2 separate regions of the Homo sapiens genome follow, and region 2 is reported to be linked to region 1. Evidence: microRNA targets listed by miRTarBase, many of them from high-throughput screens and not tested one by one. Region 1 holds a microRNA gene; the other region holds the end of a gene's coding sequence.

Evidence for each region. The annotated mature microRNA hsa-miR-3615 reads UCUCUCGGCUCCUCGCGGCUC and lies in region 1 at 1,817-1,837, shown strand. An mRNA with a match to its seed (bases 2 to 7 or 8) in the 3' UTR can be bound and repressed. Matches are read on the target gene's strand: a 7mer-m8 pairs with bases 2 to 8, a 7mer-A1 pairs with bases 2 to 7 and ends in A, and an 8mer does both.
Region 2: miRTarBase lists CCNDBP1 as a target of hsa-miR-3615. The part of its 3' UTR that is shown has no 7-base or 8-base seed match.

The regions. Positions count from the first base shown.
Region 1 is chr17:74,746,847-74,752,363 of GRCh38, forward strand. It overlaps MIR3615 (microRNA 3615), which reads left to right and starts at 1,767; the gene lies at 1,767-1,853. RAB37 (RAB37, member RAS oncogene family) reads left to right here. Exons shown (of 9, transcript NM_001006638.3): 9 at 1-489. It overlaps NHERF1 (NHERF family PDZ scaffold protein 1), which reads left to right and starts at 1,782. Exons shown (of 6, transcript NM_004252.5): 1 at 1,782-2,441. The coding sequence starts at 2,001. It overlaps SLC9A3R1-AS1 (SLC9A3R1 antisense RNA 1), which reads right to left and starts at 3,021. Exons shown (of 3, transcript NR_187307.1): 1 at 2,217-3,021; 2 at 1,727-2,081; 3 at 1-697. RefSeq lists enhancers at 336-931, 2,220-2,845, 4,337-4,878 and a silencer at 1,326-2,015.
Region 2 is chr15:43,193,950-43,198,949 of GRCh38, reverse strand. It overlaps CCNDBP1 (cyclin D1 binding protein 1), which reads right to left. Exons shown (of 11, transcript NM_012142.5): 10 at 4,489-4,535; 11 at 1,773-4,223. The coding sequence ends at 4,109. It overlaps EPB42 (erythrocyte membrane protein band 4.2), which reads left to right. Exons shown (of 13, transcript NM_001114134.2): 13 at 1,486-1,723. The coding sequence ends at 1,648. Among named protein-coding and RNA genes, the nearest start is that of CCNDBP1, 11 kb to the right of the region's middle.

The DNA of each region.
Region 1 (5,517 bases):
GGTGGTGGGAGGTCACCCATTTCCGAGTTAAACCAATGCAATATGAGTAAAACAAAGTCATGTGGGTATGTCTGGGGTAGAGAGAGGGGTAGCAAGTTCATGTGTCCTCCTTGGTCACATATCTCCCAAAGCTCCGATCCCTGCCATGGGAAGTGGACAGGAAACATGAGGTCATGACCTGCAGGCATCTTTACTGCAGCTCTGCCGGCCTGGAGGGGGAGAGGGGGAGGAAGAAGTATGCGCTGCACATTTCTGAGGCTACTGCATTTGCTTTCAAGGCAGAAATCTTGCTCTGAGCAGTCAGCGGCTCCAGTTTGGGCCCGATAAGGAAGTTCTCCGTGGCCTCCCTCAGGCAGAGCAGGGAGGAGGCTGACATTGCCAGTCTCTTCTGGGGCCCAAGGCAGGTTGCAGGAGATCCAATCCCATAGACAGCTCTGGGCCTCTTGCATTTGAGTTTTTCAGAATTAAACTGCAGTATTTTGGAAAGCACATCCTGTCCACTGTTTCTTTGAAGTGAGTGGGGGGGGGGGGTCTTGTTGAAGGAATTGTCATTCACTGCCAAAATCATTCCATCCTCCTTCCTCAGTGTCTGTCCTCAGATGGTCAGCTCCCCGCTCAACAGACTGTCTCCCGCCTCTGTGACCAGCCTCTCTTTGGCAAGAGGGAGCTAGAAGGCTTTACAGTCCTAATCATTTTTCTGTTGGAAAAAAAAAAAAAAAACCAAGGCTCCTTTCCCTGTGGCGTGTACCCAGAGGTTGATTACCTGAGTCTGTCCTGCCTCTCCCCACCCCACCTCCCTAGCCAAACGCTGCTGCCAAAGCCCACGCTATTGCCCTAGATGGCCTGTCTTCAGCGGGCTGCCCCTCGAGGTCCCAGGCTCTCCGCGGAGCCCTCACCTTCCCAGCAGGGATCAGAACCTGCACTCCTCTATGCGAGTCCTGGGACAGCACAAAGTGGATTAGGGTTAGGGTTCCCACAAACGGAAAAATGTTATTCAAACAACTCTGTAGGGTCCGAGGAGGCCCTCCGTCTTAATTCTCGAGACTGACCGGCCCTCGCTGCCCCGAGCGGGAGCAGTTGCCCCGGCAACAGCCGCTCCCTCTCAACTGGAGCTGCACCCAGGCTTTGGCTAAAGGCTGTTAAAACGTTGGCCAGGTGCGGTGGCTCACGTCTGTAATCCCAGGGCGGATCACCTGAGGTCAGGAGTTTGAAACCATCCTGGCCAACATGGCGAAATTTCGTCTCTACTAAAAATACAAAAATTAGCGGGGCGTGGTGGTGCGCGCCTGTAACCCCAGCTGCTCGGGAGGCTGAGGCAGGGGAATCGCTTGAACCCGGGAGGCGGAGGTTGCAGTGATCCGAGATCGCGCCACGGCAGTCCAGCCTGGGCGACAGAGCGAGACTCCGTCTCAAAAAAAAAAAAAAAAGTTAGGGTCCTTTACCCGAGGGCCGGCTTTCCTCACTCCCCGCCACAGGTAGGGGAAACCAGGCCGGAGCCGGCGGGCCCACCCGCCCAGAACCGGGAATTCGGCGAGCCCCGCCCCTGCCACCCCAGCGCCGGCCGCTCGGTAACAAACACTTCCACTTCCTGAGCGCTAGTCTTCGCCCGCCGCGGGGCGCCGCGCCGAGCGCAGGCCCCGCCCCGCGCGTTCCCAATGGCCGGCGCCGTTCACCCGGCCGGAGCGCCCAGGCCTGCAGCCCCCTATTGGCCCGCGGAGGTCCCCACCCTCAGCGCGGCCCCGCCCCCGGGGTAAGGAGCCGGGGCGGACTCTGGGACGCTCAGACGCCGCGCGGGGCGGGGATTGGTCTGTGGTCCTCTCTCGGCTCCTCGCGGCTCGCGGCGGCCGACGGTTCCTGGGACACCTGCTTGCTTGGCCCGTCCGGCGGCTCAGGGCTTCTCTGCTGCGCTCCCGGTTCGCTGGACGGGAAGAAGGGCTGGGCCGTCCCGTCCCGTCCCCATCGGAACCCCAAGTCGCGCCGCTGACCCGTCGCAGGGCGAGATGAGCGCGGACGCAGCGGCCGGGGCGCCCCTGCCCCGGCTCTGCTGCCTGGAGAAGGGTCCGAACGGCTACGGCTTCCACCTGCACGGGGAGAAGGGCAAGTTGGGCCAGTACATCCGGCTGGTGGAGCCCGGCTCGCCGGCCGAGAAGGCGGGGCTGCTGGCGGGGGACCGGCTGGTGGAGGTGAACGGCGAAAACGTGGAGAAGGAGACCCACCAGCAGGTGGTGAGCCGCATCCGCGCCGCACTCAACGCCGTGCGCCTGCTGGTGGTCGACCCCGAGACGGACGAGCAGCTGCAGAAGCTCGGCGTCCAGGTCCGAGAGGAGCTGCTGCGCGCCCAGGAAGCGCCGGGGCAGGCCGAGCCGCCGGCCGCCGCCGAGGTGCAGGGGGCTGGCAACGAAAATGAGCCTCGCGAGGCCGACAAGAGCCACCCGGAGCAGGTAAGCGGGGCCCAAGCCGCGCAGGCTGGCATGGAGTGGGAGGAGGATCCGGAGAGACCCAGGTGCCCCGGCCGTCCAGCCCCGCGCCCGCCGTCGTTTTTCTGAAACTCGAGCTGCGAGGGGGAGACCGCTTCCGCCCGCCGACCAGGCGCCCTGACACATCCTAGGCAGGCCTGGGGCTGCGTCCCGCGACCTCCTCTCCTTCCCAGGCTGTGCTGGGAGCTTGAGCGCCTTTGCCGCCTGCACCTCTTGTTCCCTGGCCTTTGGGAGGGCGGCGCAGGGGAACCCAGCCCCCTTCCCTCGGGTCTGTGGGTGTCTGCTCCCGTTCCTCGGAATCCCCCAATCCTGCTCCTTCCCTGGTGCCCTCTCCTCGTTCACCCCAGTCCGCAGATGGGCCGGGGAGAAAGGGCTCTCCGCCCCAGAGGTGCCAGCTTCGCCCGCCACTCCTACTTCAAAAGCTAGAGGAATAGCATTACTCCTCCTGTGTGGAGCCCCGGCGCGAGGAGGCCCTCTCCGCAGCCCGCCGGTGTGTGTCCTGAACTTCAGTCCTGCTGGACTTCATCCTCCCGGAGTCCTGTGTGACTTCTAAGGGAGAGGAAGCCCCACCATCTCAGGGCGGTGTGGGGGTTGCCTGGCAGGGAGGAGGAGCCAAGGCATCTCGGAGTGGTGGTTCTGCCACCTCAGAGGATTTACGATTCTCAGGAATGTGAAGAGTAAGCGCCTAGAACTGTATCTGGGAGGGAAGGGGAAAGACCTTGGAAGAAGAAAAAGATGGCCATGGGGAGGAGAGAGAGCTCCTGGGGCTCACGGCCCTGTGTGCGCCAGCGGAGCTCACGGTGAGCCGGTGGTCTTGCCCTGGCCTTGCCATGGTCACTCTGGTGCCCACACAGCCAGCAGGCCGGTTGCTTTTTGCCCATGTTTGGTGTTTGCCCATGGGATCCCAGTTTGGATCAGCTGCAAGAGGGGCAGCTGGCAAAATAGGAGTTGTGCTGAGCCTCCTGTCCCCAGAGAGTGGAGTGGTGCATTGTGTAGGGCAGGGCGTGAGCCTCCCAGGACCCCTTCAGCTTGCACCACCAGCTCTCCCTGGTGGCAGTGTCTGATGGGAGTGTCCGTGGGGCTACGAGGAGCCTCCTGGACAGAGAAAGGGCACAGTTCGGCATTAAGGTAGAAGGCAAAGCCCTAGAGGATCAACTGGTTTGGTGGAAGTGAGGTCACCAGAAGCCCTGTCCAGCCAGAGCTGGGTGCTGGGAATGCCAGGGCCACCAGGCTCCCACTTCCTGCCCCTGCCAAGCTGGCATTGGCAAGGGGAGGGGGAAGGGATCTGAGCACCCGGAGCAAGGAGGTTGATGCCAGGGAGTTGGGGCCGATGATCTCCAGTCCCAGGCAGAAATCCAGTGTGAACTTTGTGCTGAGTCCATCGATCGATTTGACATTCTTTTTTTTTTTTTTTTTTGGACTTTGGCACCCACACAAATACCCACCCACCCCCACCCCCCACAAGTTGCAGTCTCGTTCAGCTCCTCCCTTTGCCCTTTTGGTTATGCTGCTGGGTGCCAGAGGGCCTGGGAGGCGAACGTGGAGGCCTGGCATAGCACACGTGCGCAAAGGCAGCAGCTTTGAGCTTCCTGGGTGAGCACAGACTCAGATTCCTGCATGTTTTGGAGGGACACCTACATTTGTGTGTACTTTGTTAGGCCAGGAGATGAGAGGAGAGCCACCAGCAAATCCTGGGGACACCATCACCAGCCAAGTCCCAGGACTTCTGAGTTCTGGTTCTCCCATCTGTGAGATGGAGGCATTGGGCGATGTGATGCCTGCCTTCTCTAGAATTATAGAAATGACGTGAAGCACTTGAGCCCCTTACTAAATGCTGAACTGCACTCCTTCATGCCTGGCGTTTGAATCCCAGCTCCTCTAAACTGACTCCTAGTCAACACCATTGAGTCCTTCTAGCAGAAAATCCTCTCCTCTCAATCCTGTGTGTTGAGCATACAGACACCCATGTGGTTATTAGAAAAAATGTTAACAGACATTGTAAGAGTTCGTTTTTCTAAAACACACCCGTTTCCTACATAAAGCATCAAATGGAGGTTTGCCAATTCGTTTTAGTCTGAATTTGTGTGCAAGGTGGGGCTGTTCCCTTGTCTTCATTAGCCCTCCACTTACTAAGTGATGATATCAGTGGAAAAGTGTGGCGCAGAGAGTGGTTGGCTGGGTGGCCTCTGGCTGGGAAGACCAGCTGTGTCCAGAACCACTCAGGGCAGAGGCTGAGGGGTGCCTGTAACACTGGCCATCCCCGCTGGGGAGTCTAGGCCTAAGGAGGTGGAAGTGGCTCTCCAGCTCTGCCCACCGGCTTTGCTTTGTGGATGGCCTTCCCCGCCTGCCCCGTGGGGAGAGAGGAGCAGCAAGACCCGCCCTGCTGTTCCCCTGCTTAAAGCCCTCCTCCCCCCATTCACCACCAGTCACAGGATGAGGCCTAAACCCTTGAGTCTGGGTTCAGAGTGCCGGCCGGGCAGAGCCGAGCCAGCTCAGCTGTACTAGCCAGGCTGTGCGAAGCCAAGTTACCTCACCTCTGTAAGCCTCCATTTCCTCTTGTGTAAGTTGGGGGTTATGGCAGCTACCTCGGAATTGCATGAGGCTGTGTGTAAAGCACGTAGCTCAGTGCCTGGCACTGAGTCCAGGCTCAGCCAGCCTTTGCAGTTGGTATTGGAATGAATACATATTTCATAGTGATCATTGCACACCTATCATGGGGCAGCTAGCGCTGGGTCAGCCTGCCTAGTTGGGCAAATGCCACTGTGGCCAAGCCTGGCACACAGTCAGTGCCTGATCGATGGTCACTGTGGGTTAAGAATGATACGTTGTGGCCAGGTGTGGTGGCTCACACCTGTAATCCCAGCACTTTGGGAGGCCAAAGTGGGAGGATCGCCTGAGCCCAGGAGTTTGAGACCAGCCTAGGCAACATGACAAGACCCTGTCTCTATTAAATTTTTTCTTTTTTTTTTTTAAGAGTTATATGCTGTTCCATGGCCCTTCTCCATCTGGCAGCCTGTTCTCACCACTGCCTCCCTACCCC
Region 2 (5,000 bases), not on the chromosome of region 1:
CATAGGCTCAACACCATTTGGAAGCTGCCAAGGCTTGCGGCTTCCACCCTCTGAAGCCACAGCCCAAGCGGTATGTTGGCCCCTTTCAGCCATGGCTGGAGTGGCTGGGACACAGGGCACCAAGTCCTTAGGCTGCATACAACACAGGAACCCTGGGCCTGGCCCACTAAACCACTTTTTCCTCCTGAGCCTCCGGGCCTGTGATGGGAGGGGCTGCCATGAAGTTCTCTGACATGGCCTGGAGACATTTCCCCCTTGATCTTCAGGTTTAACATTAGGCTCCTTGTTACTTATGCAAATTTCTGCAGCCAGCTTGAATTTTTCCCTAGAAAATGGGTTTTTCTTTTCTATTGCATAGTCAGGCTGCAAATTTTCCAAACTTTTACGCTCTGCTTCCTTTATAAAACTGAATGCCTTTGACAGCACCCAAGTCACCTCTTGAATGCTTTGCTACTTAGAAATTTCTTCCACCAGATACCCTAAATCATCTTTCTCAAGTTCAAAGTTCCACAAATCTCTAGGGCAGGGTCAAAATGCCACCAGTCTCTTTGCTAAAACATAAGAGTCACCTTTGCTCCAGTTCCTAACAAGTTCCTCATCTCTATCTGAGACCACCTCAGCCTGGATTTTATTGTCCATATTGCTATCAGCATTTTCGGCAAAGCTATGCGACAAGTCTCTAGGAAGTTCCAAGCTTTCCCACATTTTCATCTTCTTCTGAGCACTTCAAGCTGCTCCAATCTCTGCCTGTTACCCAGTTCCAAAGTCACTTCCACATTTTCGGGTATCTTTTCAGCCATGCCCCACTCTACTCATACCAATTTACTGTATTGTTTGTTTTCACGCTGCTGATAAAGACATACCTGAGACTGGGAAGAAAAAGAGGTTTAATTGGACTTACAGTTCCACATGGCTGGGGAGGCCTCAGAATCATGGCAGGAGGCAAAGGCACTTCTAACAGGGTGGTGGCAAGAGAAAATGAGGAAGAAGCAAAAGCAGAAACCTCTGATAAGCCCATCAGGTCTCCTGAGACTTATTCACTATCACGAGAATAGCACAGGAAAGACCAGCCCCCATGATTCAATTACCTCCCCCTGGGTCCCTTCCACAACTCATGGGAATTCTGGGAGATAGAATTCAAGTTGAGATTTGGGTGGGGACACAGCCAAACCATATCACTCTTCCAAACAAACTCCAATACAATTACCAGGAATTGAACCAGAAGGAAGTCACAGATGACAAAAGGAACAACAGATGTAGCTTGGAAGCCCTTAGGATGTACCTCTTCTCAACCATGCAGTTGCTCAGCATTGGGTGGCTCCTGTCTTCTATTCCTTTATAAACACTTCCATTTTAATAGCAAGGTACTTAGATGTTTATTTCTGCATGGTCCACCTCTTCAAGCAAGGAAGGATCAAAGTCACTGGGACCAGCAGAGCAATGAACCTGGGACAGAACTAGCACCTGCCTTTTCCTTTATTTCAGATTCCGTTCAGTGTGGCCTGAAAACACCATGTGTGCCAAGTTCCAGTTCACGCCAACACATGTGGGGCTCCAGAGACTCACTGTGGAAGTGGACTGCAACATGTTCCAGAACCTAACCAACTATAAAAGCGTCACCGTGGTAGCCCCTGAACTATCAGCTTAAACTTCCAGCTCTATCACCACTCTCCTGCCAACCCTTGTTCTACAATCTAAACCAAACATGTGCTAGGAAGAGAAACTTTGCGTCTCAGTGTTTGTGTTGCTATAAAGGAATAACTGAGGCTGGGTAGTTTAAAAGAAAAGAGCTTTATTTGGCTCACGGCTCTGCAGGCTGTACAAGAAACAGTGAGGGCTTCAGGCTGCTTCCACTTATGCAGGAAGATGAAGGGAGGCAACGTGAGCAGAGATCACAGGGCAAGAATGGGTTGAGGGGTAGGGGTAAGTGCCAGGTGCCAGCCTCGTTTTAACAGCCAGCTCTGGGGTGGGGGAGGGACATATAGAGCGAGAACTTACTCATTACCCCACCAATGGAACGAAGCCATTCATGAGGGATCCAAACACCTCCCATTAGGCCCCACCTCCAACACTGGGAATCCAATTTCAGCATGAGGTTTGCAGGGTTGAATATCCAAACTACATCACTTTATCAGATAAATGAGTAGTCATTCAGGTTGAAAAGGTGCTCAGATACCTTTAAGGAGTACATTCAGATTGTTCAGGTTCAGGTTTTTTGCAACCATTTTACTGCTCATTAATACATTCATTAACTTACAGATAAGGGAAAGGACCTAACACTTAAATCATTCTAATATTTCTGATGAAGTGGGATATTATCCCAAAATGGAATTTTTAGGTAATCTTAAAATTACATTGATCAAGCTGGGCTCGGTGGCTCACATCTGTAATCCCAGCACTTTGGGAGGCTGACGTGGGCAGATCACCTGAGGTCAGGAGTTTGAGACCAGCCTGGCCAACATGGTGAAACCCCATCTCTACTAAAAATACAAAAATTAGCTGGACATGGTGGTGTGCATCTGTAGTCCCAGCTACTTGAGAGGCTGAAGCCAGAGAATTGCTTGAGAACCTGGGAGGCGGAGGTTGCAGTGAGCCGAGAGTGTGCCACTGCACTCCAGCTTGGGGGACAGAGCAAGACTCCATCTCAAAAAAAAAAAAAAAAAAAAAAAAATTACATTGATCAGTGCTTTCCCTGATCATTATCCTTAAAGATCCAAACATGACTGAACGAAGTTATACAATACAGGACCTGAGAGAATAATTCAGCTAGAGGTAAGTCTTTATATTAGAGTTCTATATTCATTAAGTATCCCACAATTAAAGTCTGATGTTAATAACATGAATTTGGTCCAGTAGAGAAATATAAAAGTATATAAAAAATAGGCTCTATATGAAAGGATAAAAGAACTAGACTGTTGTACAATGTTATTATTTTGTTTATGTTATTTTGTTGCCTTGACACTCTGTCAGTTTGATTTTAGTTCCTTCCCTTCATGACACTTGTTAACAATACAAAATGGCACTTCAAAACAGTAAGCTAAAACTCATTTGGCTTAAGGAATTTCAACCCCAACCCCAAGTATACATTAGTCACTCAAAGAATGACTGCTGTTGCTGATTATACCTAAAGACAGCAGAAAGGCATATGTTATGAATTACACCTACAAAAGGAAGATGATGGGCATGAGAGGTGGCGGAGACCTGTAGGACATGCATAATGCCCTATTCAGCTCACCAGAATATACATCATTATAGATTTACACTGCTTTCCAATATGCAGTCTTCTAGACTGATGCAAAAGTATAATTAAGTGGTGATGGTTTTGCAAAAGGATGAACTGAAAAGGCCCTTAAAATTACATAAAATCTCTTACACACTAAAAAATTTTTGATTTATAAAAATTTGGTATTTACATTTGGGGACACACGTAACCAAGGACAACACAAGTATGTATAAGGAAAATAAATCTGTTCAATAAGGTGGGCAAACCTAACAAATGAGCTCAATGCCAATATATTTTAGAGACATGGAGTAATCTGTGATAATATTCAGAAGGACTTGCTGATAATAATATATAACATGGTGAAATACTAAGATGAATTTTGGAGTCATCTTTTATAAATAAAGTGTTTTGTTCTAAATATACTTCTGATTAGAATCAGATTTTTAAACCTACAAACCCAAATGAAAGCAATGTTCTAGTCTCAATCCACTGTATTTCTGGTAAAAAGAAACTTTGGAAGGGCACTCATTTAATCACTGGCAAGTTAGCATTTTATTGAGACCATCAACATCTTTACAATGAAAACAACATACTTTACTGCAAAAAGAGAATAAGGCAGCTTTCCTAGGAATCTCTGAGAAATGACTCAGGAATGAGAAATCATGCAATTATTTTTCATATATAGCACAGAAAAATATACGCATATGGTTTATAAATAGGTGTCAATCTGGCCTAACCAACAATCTTTGGTAATAGTGTCTCTTGCTAAATATAGATAGGCACTCCCTTTCAATCCAGCAAGCATTCTAGCTCCATTTTAAAAGCAGGTATCAGAGCCTGACCATGACGATGAGAGGGGAAGAGAGTACAAATGAGCCTGAAAAGTCATAATTCAAGTTCACTCTGAGTGAGCTCCTTGATTCTATTCATGCAATGATCAATGGCATTAATAAGTAAAGGGATCCAACTATCTTCTGGCTGAGGGGTCACATGACTTGCTCTGTGAATAGAATAGGAAAGAAGTAAGTTAAACTTATTAGGATGTCAAGGGAAAACCTATCCTCAGGAGGGAGCACAGGGAAAACTAAAATTTTTTTAAAGGGAAGCTTCTTTGCAGAATCTCAGCTGCCCCACAACTGAAGCTGAAAGAAAATCCCACACCCACCCTTTCCCACTCCTTGAAATGGGAGCTAGGGAGTTGAGAACGTCTGGACAGCAGTTCCGTTTTACTCACAAAAAGCTATCTGAGAAGTCTTCATACTTACTTTGTAATTTCAAGTGCCTTCTTTAAAACAGATACAAGTTTCGCAGACTAGAAAAGAAACACAGAAGTTATTCACCCTGAGCCCTACCATAAAAAGGTGAGTTCAAATATTTTTAAAGACCCAAGTAATAAAAAAATTATTTAGAAAAAGGACCTGAAGGAAGTATGCAAAATTTAAAATGCTGATTAGGTTAGGGTGGCAGGATTACGGGTTCTTTTCTATTTAGCAAGATCTTATTAATACTATTGCTATAACATTTTAATAAGATTTTTTAGATCTAAAATATTTTCAATTTAAAAAAGGACAGAAAAAGGAAAATGTAACCTGAATTGGTCCCAAATGCTGATAGCTCAAAATATAAAGCAGAAATGACTAAGGTTCCTTTAAAAAAAAAAAAAAAAAAAAAAAAAAAAAAGCGCATTAAGAATTTTAAGAACACCAATATAAGGATAAGATGGAGACGTTTAATATAAAATATCAATACATATAAGATGCATATGCAGTACACATTT